Regions from separate parts of the Homo sapiens genome. Here regions 1 and 3 are each linked to region 2. The links come from fine-mapping of genetic effects on gene expression. A gene starts in region 2. Each other region holds a variant in brackets. All regions are shown on one strand. Distances are from middle to middle.

The links. PIP is the estimated chance that this variant, and not a neighbour inherited with it, causes the effect.
Region 1: its variant is the best candidate, but not a certain one, in a credible set for the expression of LINC02795 in whole blood (TOPMed, PIP 0.77).
Region 3: its variant is the best candidate, but not a certain one, in a credible set for the expression of LINC02795 in adrenal gland (GTEx, PIP 0.53).

What each region holds. Positions count from the first base shown.
Region 1 is chr1:86,455,962-86,460,256 of GRCh38, forward strand. CLCA2 (chloride channel accessory 2) reads left to right here. Exons shown (of 14, transcript NM_006536.7): 14 at 1-592. Among named protein-coding and RNA genes, the nearest start is that of CLCA1, 11 kb to the right of the region's middle. The variant GA/G (reference allele first, on the strand shown) is at 2,556.
Region 2 is chr1:86,317,062-86,321,356 of GRCh38, forward strand. LINC02795 (long intergenic non-protein coding RNA 2795) reads right to left here and starts at 2,540. Exons shown (of 4, transcript NR_187380.1): 1 at 1,595-2,540; 2 at 1,271-1,334. It overlaps LOC105378825 (a long non-coding RNA gene), which reads right to left. Exons shown (of 3, transcript XR_007066205.1): 3 at 3,243-3,970.
Region 3 is chr1:86,344,535-86,348,666 of GRCh38, forward strand. ODF2L (outer dense fiber of sperm tails 2 like) reads right to left here. Exons shown (of 17, transcript NM_001366781.1): 17 at 2,303-4,132. Among named protein-coding and RNA genes, the nearest start is that of MIR7856, 11 kb to the right of the region's middle. The variant GA/G (reference allele first, on the strand shown) is at 2,293.

The DNA of each region.
Region 1 (4,295 bases), 140 kb after region 2:
ATCATGCTATATTTTATATATGAAGCCCCTAATGCAAAGCTCTTTACCTCTTGCTATTTTGTTATATATATTACAGATGAAATCTCACTGCTAATGCTCAGAGATCTTTTTTCACTGTAAGAGGTAACCTTTAACAATATGGGTATTACCTTTGTCTCTTCATACCGGTTTTATGACAAAGGTCTATTGAATTTATTTGTTTGTAAGTTTCTACTCCCATCAAAGCAGCTTTCTAAGTTATTGCCTTGGTTATTATGGATGATAGTTATAGCCCTTATAATGCCTTAACTAAGGAAGAAAAGATGTTATTCTGAGTTTGTTTTAATACATATATGAACATATAGTTTTATTCAATTAAACCAAAGAAGAGGTCAGCAGGGAGATACTAACCTTTGGAAATGATTAGCTGGCTCTGTTTTTTGGTTAAATAAGAGTCTTTAATCCTTTCTCCATCAAGAGTTACTTACCAAGGGCAGGGGAAGGGGGATATAGAGGTCACAAGGAAATAAAAATCATCTTTCATCTTTAATTTTACTCCTTCCTCTTATTTTTTTAAAAGATTATCGAACAATAAAATCATTTGCCTTTTTAATTAAAGAGTTTAAAACTTTATTGAAGAATATATATAATAATGTAGACTAGATCTAAATTTTATAACCAGGACCAATTAAGAATAAAAATTAGATTATGTTTTGGGGTGGTGGAGAGGGAAATGTGGGGAATTGGGACAGGAAGAAAGAGATAGCATGAAGCCCTAAGTGAGAGACTCAGACCAGTGCTGGGGAGAAAAACAACCAGCAAATCTCTCTACCCAGGCCACCTCCTTGCAGTTTATACTGATCCAGTGTCTGGCCTGTTACTTTCTAAGTCTCACAGTGCCTACATTTTCACAGATGAAAGCTTCAAGACACTTGCAGCTCAATTCCTAGCTGGCAGTCAATCCTTCCTCCCTCTATTGCTATTATACTTGCTAGCATGGAATTTGCTTCTCTCCAGTTTTAAACTGGGCTAGTGAAACACAGAGACGGATTGTAGTGGGTTTCAAGTTCTCGAATATTTTCCTCATTTTACAGACAGGAAAATGGAGGGTTGGGTGAGTAATTCAAAGTTTTATACTGGTTAATGGCAAAGCTATATTAGAGGTAGAGCCAGGTTCTCAGACTACTCCTTTTCTCCTATTTAAGGTGTGGGAGATGCCAGGGTTTCTACCTAGAGATATTTAACTGTTTCATGATAAGTTAGCAGGACAGCAGATCTAGCTTTAAAGAAACCTGGTGGGTTTTGTTGTTGATGTTGTTGTTGTTTGTCTTCCATTTTGTGGGTACAGGAATGGAACAAATGGACTTAAGTCCAGAAATTAGTGAGTATAAGAGGCAAAATTAAGGGGTTCTAATGATATTAAAGTAACAAACAAATATAACAGTATAGAAAGAGTGATCTCATGAAGTGCGTAGGGTAAACAGTGTTCAGTGGTTGTAAGGAGTGAAAATATTAAACAAAAAGAAAGATGTAGTAAATGTAGGAAAACACAGATTTAGAGATTCCAGCAGTCAATAGAACAGAGTCACAGTAAAGACCCTGTTGATTCCAAATACCTGATAAAAAAAATTGAAACAATAGGGCATTTGGCCAAAAAGAATGAAAAACTATGATGTGCTCGCTGGTCACTAGTGGAATACCATGATGTCAATACATGTGACATCATTAACAGTTTGACCCAAGATTGAAAGAGGAGGAAGACTGTGGGTTAGATAGACAGTTATCTGAGAGAGGGAAGAGAAGTCTATGGAATTAAGCAATATGGGCAGATATTATTTTTAAATTTCAGAATAGTCATTGTTATGTAGTGGATAGAAATTTGTTCTGGAAAGTGAAAAGAGCATTCCCCCATTTTTTGCCCTCTTCTTTTAGGAATAGTAGAGGAAGATTAATTGTCTCAATGGAAGAGAGACAAAAGTAGGGGATGGGAGATTTTTAAGAGCTGCTGATATAGCCTATGCACTGAGCAGGTCACTGTTTATGTGGACACTATTGACTTTCCCAAAAGTACGTTTGTACTTGCATGTTAATAGCAAAAAGTCTACCAAAAAAATTTGTGTATGCTTTATCTTTTATTACAATGCAATTATTCTTAGAAGAGTTAACCCCTAGATATATCTTACATTTAAAACTTAATGTGACACTGATGGTGAAGCTGCTCATATCAAACTAATCCTCTTACAAATAACAATTATAATTCTGGAAGAAAATGTAGAACACAATTCTTTAAGCAATGGATCCTGACAAAAGCAAGCAGAAACTGAAGGAGATATGACCCTTAAAAGGGGAGAATAAGTAGAGGTGGGATCCACATTTAACCAAATTTTTCCCCAAAGGATCTCCCTAGTTTGCTCAGAACATCTGGATAGAGCTCAAGCAGAAAGCAGCCATCATCCCAGATTGATAAGTCAGAAGTAAGCAATCTGGGGGTCAGATTAGTTGGAAATTGAGGAAGGGAATCCCAAAAAGAAGCAGCCACAAAGAGGAAAGTCCCCAAACCTGCATCCTCTCAATCT[GA/G]AAAAAACCCAAATTTGATTTAAACTATCAATCCACAGATCTCAGATGTTCAAGTGAGCCTAAAATAGGATCTATACAAAGAAAACACCTAGGCATATCATAGGAATGATGACTGACTACTCATCAGAAACAACTGAGGCCACAAGACAATAAAATAGCATTTTAAAGTGCTAAAAGAAAATCTGTCAACATAGAATGATTTCAAGCAAAAATGTCTTTCAAAATGTAGATAAGTAGAAGCTAATTTTTGCCAGCAAGAAATACCAAAGAAATTTCTTTAGGCTGAAGGAAAATGATGCCTGATGGAAATATAGATCTATAGCATTGAAGGGTTTTTAGAAATTATAGGCTGGGCACGGTGGCTCATGCCTATAATCCTGGCACTTTGGGAGGCCTAGGTGGGTGGATCACCTGAGGTCAGGAGTTCGAGACCAGGCTGGCCAACATGGTGAAAACCTGTTTCTACTAAAAATACAAAAATAGCTGGGCATGGTGGCGGGTGCCTGTAATCCCAGCTACTCAGAAGGCTGAGGTAGAAGAATCACTTGAACCTGGGAGGCGGAGGTTGCAGTGAGCTGAGATAGCACCACTGCACTCTAGCCTGGGAGACAGAGTGAGATTCCATCTGAAAAAAAAAAGAAAGAAAATAAAGAGATTATAAATAGGTACGTAAGTATCTATGCTGTTGGTTTGCTTTACCCAATTCCTTTAAAAAACAATTAACTATAACAGAAATAAAAACAATATATTGTGGTATTAATAACAAGAAGTAAGATATAAGATAATAAGCGCAGAATGAACATAAAGGTGACAAATGGAATTATAATATCAAAGGGTACTCTAATTATACATAAAGTGGTATAATATTAATTCAGAGTAGAGTGGGATAAATTAAGAACACATATTGTAACTCTTTTAGCACCCATTAAAAATAGAGAATTGAGGACAGGTATGGTGGCTCACACCTATAATCCTAGCACTTTGGGAGGCCTAGGTGGGAGGATTGCTTGAGCCCAGGAATTAGAGGCCTGCTAGGGCAACAAAATGCGATCCCATCTCTACAAAAAATCAAAAAAATTAGACAGGTGTTGTGGCACATGCCTGGAGTCCCAACTACATGGGATGCTGAGGCAGGAGAATCACTTGAGCCTAGCAGGTCAAAGCTGCAGTGAGCTATGCTCGTGCTACTGTACTCAGCCAGGATGACCGAGTGAGACCCTGTCTCAAAAATAATACATAAAATAAAAATATCTAAAATAAAAATATGCTAAACATCCTACAATGCACAGGACAGCCCCTGCTAGCAGCGGTTAATCAACATGGGTCTGCGGCAACTCAATTCTTGCCCCCTTGAAGGAAAGAATTTGACCGAGGGGCATAAGGCAGAGTGAGAGACTCAGGCAAGTTTTTGAGCGGGAGTAAGATTTTATTAAAAAGCTTTAGAGTAGGAACAAAAAGAGGGCCAAGGGGGCAACTTGAGAGATACAAGTGCCCTGTTTGACCTTTGACTTAGGGTTTTATACATTGGCATGGTTCCGGGGTTTGCATCTCTCCTCCCTTGATTTCTTTTCTTGGGACAGGCTGTCTGCATTCGCAGTGGCCTGCCAGCACTTGGGAGGGGAGCATGCACAGTATGTTTACTAAAGTTGTGTGCATGTTCATTTTAGGCATTTTTTTCCTTACCAGTCGAGTGTTGCTAGAGGAAGGTCATATACCAGTTAAACTCCACCATTTTGCCT
Region 2 (4,295 bases):
TGGCCTTATTAAGGCATATCTAAATCTTTTAGTGAGTCCATGTAAAAGTCATTTTCTTACCACTCAGATGGTTTCTCTAAATTGCTGTGCTCCTGCTATGATTTGACCTTTGGCTGAGATGCTTTTTCAAATGCTTTTAGCTAAGCCCTGCATACATCTAGACACTCAAGCTTCAGGATAGTACAGATTTCAGCCCCATTACTCCTTTTCCAAGCTACAGCAGAAAAACCAAAACAAATATTGCAGATTTGTCCAGTTCTCTTAAGTATCAGCTAGGGAAGCAGGAAAAGTCCTCTCTATTATGTGGTGATTCTCCATATTAGAATCACCTAGGAATCTTTTAAGATATGCTGATACCCTAATATTTTTAAGGAGCTCTCTCTAGATGATTCTAGCGTGCAGCTAATGTGGAAAACTAGGCATTTGGAGAAAGAAGAGAAAAAGTTAGAAATAGCATGTAAAGCCTTGAGCATGTTATTGAACCTCTTTAAACTCACTTCTCTCATTGTTACTTACATGAATTAATCCAAATAAGTTTAGTTTGGTGTTTGGCTTACAGTAAACACTTAATAAATATTAGTCATTATTAATATTGTTTTATCAAAGTTCATATTTTTTCATCATTTTATTTGTGAGTAAATGGGGTTTCTCCAGGAAGCAAAAATATGTAAGACCACAGATCTTGAAAGCAGAGCTTGAAGAGAGCAAAATTTGGCATTCAAATCCCAGCTTGACCACTTAGTAGTTAATCTGACATTGAGCAGGCAAGCATTTGATCTGAGTCTCGGTTTTCTCATCTATTAAATGGGAGTGATACTTACCTCTCAGGTTGTGAAGACTAAAAGATACTATGTATGCTAAAGGATAATTTTCAAAAAAGTAAAATTATGACCCTTCTACAGTTATAAAAGAAACATATGTCAAAGATTTTATTTCAACTCTTTAATTACTGAGGGAACCACTAATATAGTAAGATCTGTTCAAATGAGAATTTGACTTATAGAGCTTTATAATCAACCAGTCAAAATTTGTTTGCTTTGGTATGAATAAGAATTTGCTGCATTGTCAGCAGTTTTCAACAATTTAACAGCTACCTCTGCAGAGCTGCAAAATAACCTAGTCAATAGAAAGTCAAGGTGTGAATTCTTGGAATCAGATAATCCAGGACTCCACTATAATGCCCAGCACTCCACTGAAAGACACCAGTGATCCTCTTTGCCCATTTCTGAGTCCTGACAAGTATATAAAGCACAAGGCAGAGTGTACTTGCCATGGAGTCAGTGATGATTACATGGTGGCTGCATTCATTATCCTTGAATAACATGATTATTTACCTAGAAAATCCAAACAAATCAACAAAATAAATGTATTATGACAGATAGGACAATTACAATCATTAAAATTTATCATTACTGTGACTCTTGAGTTCATGCTTCACATTCTTCCCTTCACTGTAAACATACCAATAATAACATTTTTAAAAATATATAAAGAAAAGTCATAGGCATATTCAAAAGCAGGATAATAGATCACATGCAGCACGATGCCAGAACTGAAGCCTCAGGCAGTGTAGGCAGCCAAGAGTTGGACTCACGTGGGGTGACAGAGCAAAGCGTTCTTCATAAAGCTGGAAGCAAGGACAGTGTTCCCTTTGCCAGCTCAGTGACTGGATCTCTAATATCCCCAAAGACTCCAAGCCACAGGAGTCCAAGCCACCAACTAAGACCATGCCCTGGTCTAGAGATGGTGGGGGGAGAGTTGGTGAAGGCAACCAAAAAACTGATATCCAAGGAGTCTTGAAGAGGAGGGAGATGAAAATTCCCACACAAGCTGAACCTGCAAACTAAAGCTTCGAAGAAAAGGAGAAAAATTAACCCTAAGAAAGAGCAAATAAACTTATCCAGGGCATTAATAGTTAACAGAATATGATGCAGAATTGTGGAAAAATAATGACATGGAAAACACGGTAAAAGAAGGGAAACGTTTCAAGGAAAGGTAAATGTCTTGAAGACTGATTTGCTCATTCGTGATTAGCTCTCAGCTCCAGTTCCACCCTATGCTTTCCCCCTATTGCAGGGAAGCAGAATCTGCTTACACCAGAGTCTTTTCCAAACCTTCCTTTCAGCTGTCTCTCAAAGAGAATTTGGCATTCTGGGAAGCAATGGGAGGCACTGGAAAAAACTGGAAATGAGGAGGATTTCTTCTCTTCTTGAAGTAGCTCTGATAAACATGGTGGCAGCAGTAACAGCAGCAGGCAAGCCTGAGCCCTGGACATCTGCTCAGGCAACATGGTTCAGACAGTAGATGCAGTAGCAGGTACCCCAACAACCTCAGTGGGACAGTTTCCCTAGGCTGCAACAGGGACAGCGGCTGATGACTTTTGGATCCTGGATACCTGTAGCATCAGCAAGAGCGCTAATTCCCTGCTTCCTGTAAAGCAGCTGCAGTGGGGTTCCAGCGGCATCAGGGGCACAATGACTGTGGGCTCTGGGTAGCAGCATCTTCCTTTCTGCTTCTCCTGCACTAGTATAGTGGTAACTTCTGGAAGTTACTATCTCTAGGTAACAGATCTTCCCTCTTTCGCTCCTCCAGCCCTTCCAACATGTTTGCAGCCAGTTTTCTGTCCTACATTCTGTCTGTTGATTCTGATTGCCTGAGGAGACACTGACAGAGTTGGCTATGCCTGCAGAATACGGATGACAGATGTGTTGAAAAATCAGAGAAGCTATGATAGTTAAAGAACTATAATGCCAGCAGGAATTGATCTGTCGTGCTAAAAACAAACAAACAAAAACATTACAAATGTATCCGCGTGTCTATAGACAGGAGGTTAGAAATGACTTGCTCTGGTTATGATTACAGATAATTTTTATTAGGCGAGAACTTCACAAATGCTAGAACTAGCCTATGTAAGCTCAAATCCCAGTTCTCCCAGCTTCTATCAGTATAGCATTGGGCAGATTTCTTAATCACTCTCTGACTCTTTTTCTCTAAATGCAAAGTGGTTGAAATAATATCTCAAAAAGTTATGGAAAAAAAGTGAGTCAATAAATTTTTTAAAATGGAGAAGAGAGACTGGTTCATGGTACTCTACAAGTGGTTTTCTAAAATGTTTTTCTTTATCCAGATCCTTACTGGTTAAAAAAAAAAAGAATGAGCATAATAATTTTTTAACCAATAAATAAATAAAATGTTTGTATTTATTTTCCAATTTTAATAAAGGATATATATATTACTACTGACCAGAAAATGTCATATATAAAAAGATAAACATGGCATTCCATAAAAAATGAACATAAATTATCTTAAAATTATTGCCAAATTTGTGATTTCTACAGTATTACAGGGTTGCAAAGCTTCTTGGAAGATAAACTAGACTCCTCTAACTTTTAGCAAGTCTATTCCTCTACTTTCTTCATATCAATAGCCAACATCCTGTCATGAAAATATTCATCTGGATTCACCTAAGTCCTTCTGAATATACGTTTTCCTCCTCTCACGCAGTTTTCAAATTGTATTTAGAACATTCAATCAACATCTTACATGTAACAATATTCTCTGTATTTAAACATTATGCTGTGCCTTTTCCTATTTATTGCCAGGTGAAATAGATTTTTCTATGGTTATTCACAAAAATCTCAAAGTAAAAATGAAATGAACTGATAAACTCATGAATTAATGTGTTATGTTAGGAAGAATACTTGTTTCAAATTGTAGGGGCTGCCATGGAGGGTGGAGTGGCTTTCCTGATTGATAAATGTACAGCTTGGCCCCTTCTTTGGGATCCTCCTTTCTGCAGAGAGTTCCAGTTTTCGTGTTCTCTTTCCTGAGGGACAGTGGAGGCCTAGGGGTAAGCTGGCTTCATTCAGGAAGATCACATTAACAGGCTTGTTCAAGCGGATTTTTCAGCAGTAAACCCTTTATTTTGATTTCTGTGTTTTATTCCTGCATCTTTTACTCTCAGTTTGTCCTAAAATCAGGTGGGGAAGAAAAGATAAATAGTGAAAAGATGAATAGTGATCCCCTCAAACTACAGCATGTTAACTCAGGCATATTACTTTAATTTCCACTTAAACCAGGGGCTCTTACCTGGGGTCCGCAAATGCATGCATAAACATGGATGGGAAAAGTAAATCACATCTTTATTTTTTCTAAATTTCTTTTTTTTTTTTTTTTGAGACGGAGTCTCACTCTGTTCCCAAGGCTGGAGTGCAGTGGTTCAATCTTGGCTCACTGCAACCTCTGCCTCCCGGGTTCAAGCGATTCTCCTGCCTCAGCCTGCCAAGTAGGTGGGA
Region 3 (4,132 bases), 27 kb after region 2:
TCTTATGCCTTTGTGTCCTCATAGCTTAGCTCCCACTTATGAATGAGAACATATAATATTTGGTTTTCCATTTCTGAGTTACTTCACTTAGAATAATGGTCTCCCACTCCATCCAGGTTGCTGTGAATGCTGTGATTTTTTTTCCTTTTTGTGGCTGAGTAGTATTCCACAATGTATATGTACCACATTTTCTTTATGCACTCATTGGTTGACAGGCATTTAGGCTGGTTCCATATTTTTGCAATTGCAAATTGTGCTGCTATAAACATGCAAATGCAAGTTATTTTTCACATAATGACTTCTTTTCCTTTGGGTAGATACCCAGTAGTGGGATTGCTGGATCAAATGGTAGTTTTACTTTTAGTTCTTTAAGGACTCTCCATCCTATTTTCCATAGTGGTTGTACTAGTTTACATTCCCACCAGCAGTGTAGAAGTGTTCCCTTTTCACTACATCCATGCCAACATCTATTCTTTTCTGATTTTTTTATTAAGACCATTCTTGCAGTAGTAAGGTGGTATCTCACTGTGGTTTTAATTTGCATTTCCCTGACCATTAGTGATATTGAGCATTTTTTTCATGTTTGTCGGTCACTTGCATATCTTCTTTTGAGAATTTGTCTATTCATATCCTTTGTCCACTTTTTAATGGGATTATTTTTATCTTGCTGATTTGAGTTTGAGTCAGTTCCACAGGCTTAACAGGAAGCATGACTGGGATGCCTCAGGAAACTTACAATTATGGTGGAAGGCAAAGGGGAAGGAAGCACATCCTACCATGGCAGAGCAGGAGGAGGACTGAGAGAGTCGGGGGGAACTGCCACACAGTTTTAAATCATTGAATCTCATGAGAACCCAGAAAACAGCAAGGGGGAAATGCACCCCCATGATCCAATCACCTCCCACCAGGCCCCTCCCCCAACACGTGGGGATTACAATTTGAGATGAGATTTGGTTGGGGACACAGAACCAAACCGTATCACGTGTGTGGGTTTCTATTCCTTTCTCCATGTGCATACCAACATATGTGAACCTATATACAGAGAGGTTTTTAATTACAAAAATAAACATGACTTTGTGACTTTTTTTCACCTAAATATAACGAATAAACTGCAAGCCAGCAGATAGATCAAATTCATTCTTTAAATTGCTGTATATTTTTCCAGCTACAGACCCTGCTGTGACTCACTTTCTAAGAGGACTTCATTTGCCGTTTGCTGCAACAGACCTGCTGACCTCAGAAAACCTTGAAGGGGCTCTCTAGTGAAGGGCTTTCCAATCTTTGTAGTTGGGAAAGAACTGCTGCTTGAGACTGAAAAGGTCTGGGAGCAAAACAGCTCCTCATAGAAAGTTATCAGATGGTAAGAGGTCTCATAGGCCCATGAGAAATGAAGCCACCGCATCTCTTAACACTTAATTTGCTACTGCCCAAGAGATGTGCACAACAGGGTGCTGGCAGATGCTGAGGAAACCATAGCTTGAGTAGGCCAGGAAAAGTTAAATTCATTTATGGGGCATGGGAAGAAAGATGACCAGTGCAACAGAAATAAGAGAGATGTCTACTGAAGCAGAACCAATGGAAGAGACAGAAGATAATTTTAATGAAAAATATCATGGAATTATAGAACTAAAAATAGAAAAGATTTTCAGAAATTAAAAACTACCACGATTTCTTAATTAAAAGTTCAATATCCAACAGAAAAAGAGAATGACTGACTTTGAAAATAACATTAGTGGTCAGAAAAATCGCTGGAGGAAATACCTCATAAGAGACCCAGTGCAGATAACCTGAGGGAAAAGACCAAGAAGCATGGAGGTCAGATCCAGGAGCCAACGAAAGAGGAGGAAAGGAACATGAGAAGTAATAATAACATAGATAATGGAAGAAAACATTTACAACTTAGAAAGTATTGAGGGCCTGAATATCAAAGATAAAGGGAAAATCCTGCAGATCTTTTAGTACTGTGGGGAAATGGGCTTTCTGGCTCAAGGGCCTCGCTGACATTGAATTTAGGTCACATACCAGGTAAGCCCTAGGTACACACAATGTGTGTACCTAATGCTTCACATGGAAACAGTATTAAGCAGAGATTGTTAAATTCTAGCATTCAGCAACTTTCCTTTGTCATGTTGTCACTAGGAGCTAAATACCAACCTTAGGAACTTTGTGGTAGTCTTTTCCTTCCACAGTCTATCTAAAGCTGCAGGCACCAATTTTTAAATGCCATAAGCACAAATTACTTTGGTAACAATAAAAAATTAAAAATATGAGAAAGGAGGTATTCATGGGTAA[GA/G]CAAATGCATTACTGTTATAAGAAACTACTATCTTTATTTATGAAATGGATACAGAGGTAGTATGGTGAGAGTTAAGAGCAGAGCAGAGACTCTGGATGTCTGCCACTTACTAGCTGTGCGACCTTGGGCAAGTTACCTAACCTTTCCATGTCTTAGTTTCCTGAAAATTAAATGAGTTAATATATTATCACAATTATTAACTCTGGCACATAGCAAGTGCTTAATCAATCATAGCAGCGCTGCTGCTGCGCTGCTGCTACAGTGGGAAAACGGCTCTGTACACAGAACTTTAATGTTGCAGACTTGAATTTAAATGCCAACTTTAAACAAGTTTCATACCACAGCCATGGTAATTAATCCTTTTTGCTTACATTTTTCATATCTAAAACAGGAGTACGAATACCTGCCTCTTTCAACATCTGTCCATCTATCCACAAACATCAACTGAGTGCCCAGATATTTATATGACTAAGATACATTTCGGCCCTTAAGGAGCTTACAGTTTAGTGAGTAAAACTCAAGAGCTTTGCTTTCCTTTCATGTGGGCATTTAAGGCTCCCTTTGCATTAGGAGGTAAAGAAAGGGCTGCAAGGGTCAAGCATGTTTTTAGTATGATGAGTACTAAGATTTTTTTTAAAATGACACTAATCTTGTTAGCAATTGTTGGGTAAAAAATGTGGCCAGTTCTGACACTCTGTATTTTGCTATTTTAAGAAAAATACTACGAACCAACTGGATCACTAGAAAGTAAGCATCTGTGAATGATATGACAGTCTTAAAAGTGAGGGGATCAGAGGGGACCAGGCCCCCATCTCTGATCAGAAAAAAAGCATAAAACATCTTAAAGAGATATTTCTGTTCATAGGCTGGAACTGTGTAGTTCACAACCTGCCTTTTTTAGTGATCTTTTAAGACCTGAGTGTTCCTCTGAATTAACAGCTCTCAAGTCATTGTCCAAGAGGAGTCACTATTACTTGATCCTTTGTAAACCACGTCATCCCCTTTTAGAGTATCCTGCCTTGGCACACACAGTGGGAGATTATAGCAAACAAGTTCTTTTTCAACTTGGACAACTTTATCCCAATACTAAAGACCTTATTTTAAAGCTTCTTGATGTTAAGAGTGCTTATTTTGATCATCCCCATGAGTTGGCCATGGAAAGGGTGGGATAAGCTGTTCCCCTTTAATCTTTTATTTAACTAAGGGGCTCTAGAATGTCTAAAATAATAATAATATCAGATAATCATTAGTATAAAACGAATAAAAGAGAGTACAAATTGAAGACAGCCTGAATATCTATTCTTTATAAAGAAATAATGCATGACCACGTTTTCATCTGTCATTAGCAGTTGGTACTTAATAGCGATGATTTAAAATTGTATACTTAAAACCTAACAGAAATTATAATGGCAACTCAGCATATACTTGAAACAATATTAAGTGTAGTATATTGAGACATTTAGTAGCTTTAGAAAGTATGTAATTACACCATTATTAAAAATTAAAATTCAGAATATTTTACATTTATATATCATAATATAAAACAATTATATATATTATTTAAAATCATATTGACCAAGACTTACTACAAATTCACTTGAATGGTGGCTACAAACATCACAAAGAATGAATCTGACTTCCATGTCTATGTGTGAGAAAAATATTCTAACAACCAATTTAATTTTAAAAGAAATTAAACCAAAGATAAATAAGAATTATCCAGCAAACAGGAATAGTAACAACTATCCTATTTTAAAGTTTCAGTTAGATAAATTATGTTTCAAAAATCTTTACATAAAAACCTCTAATACTACCACTCATAAATCATAAAATGTAAC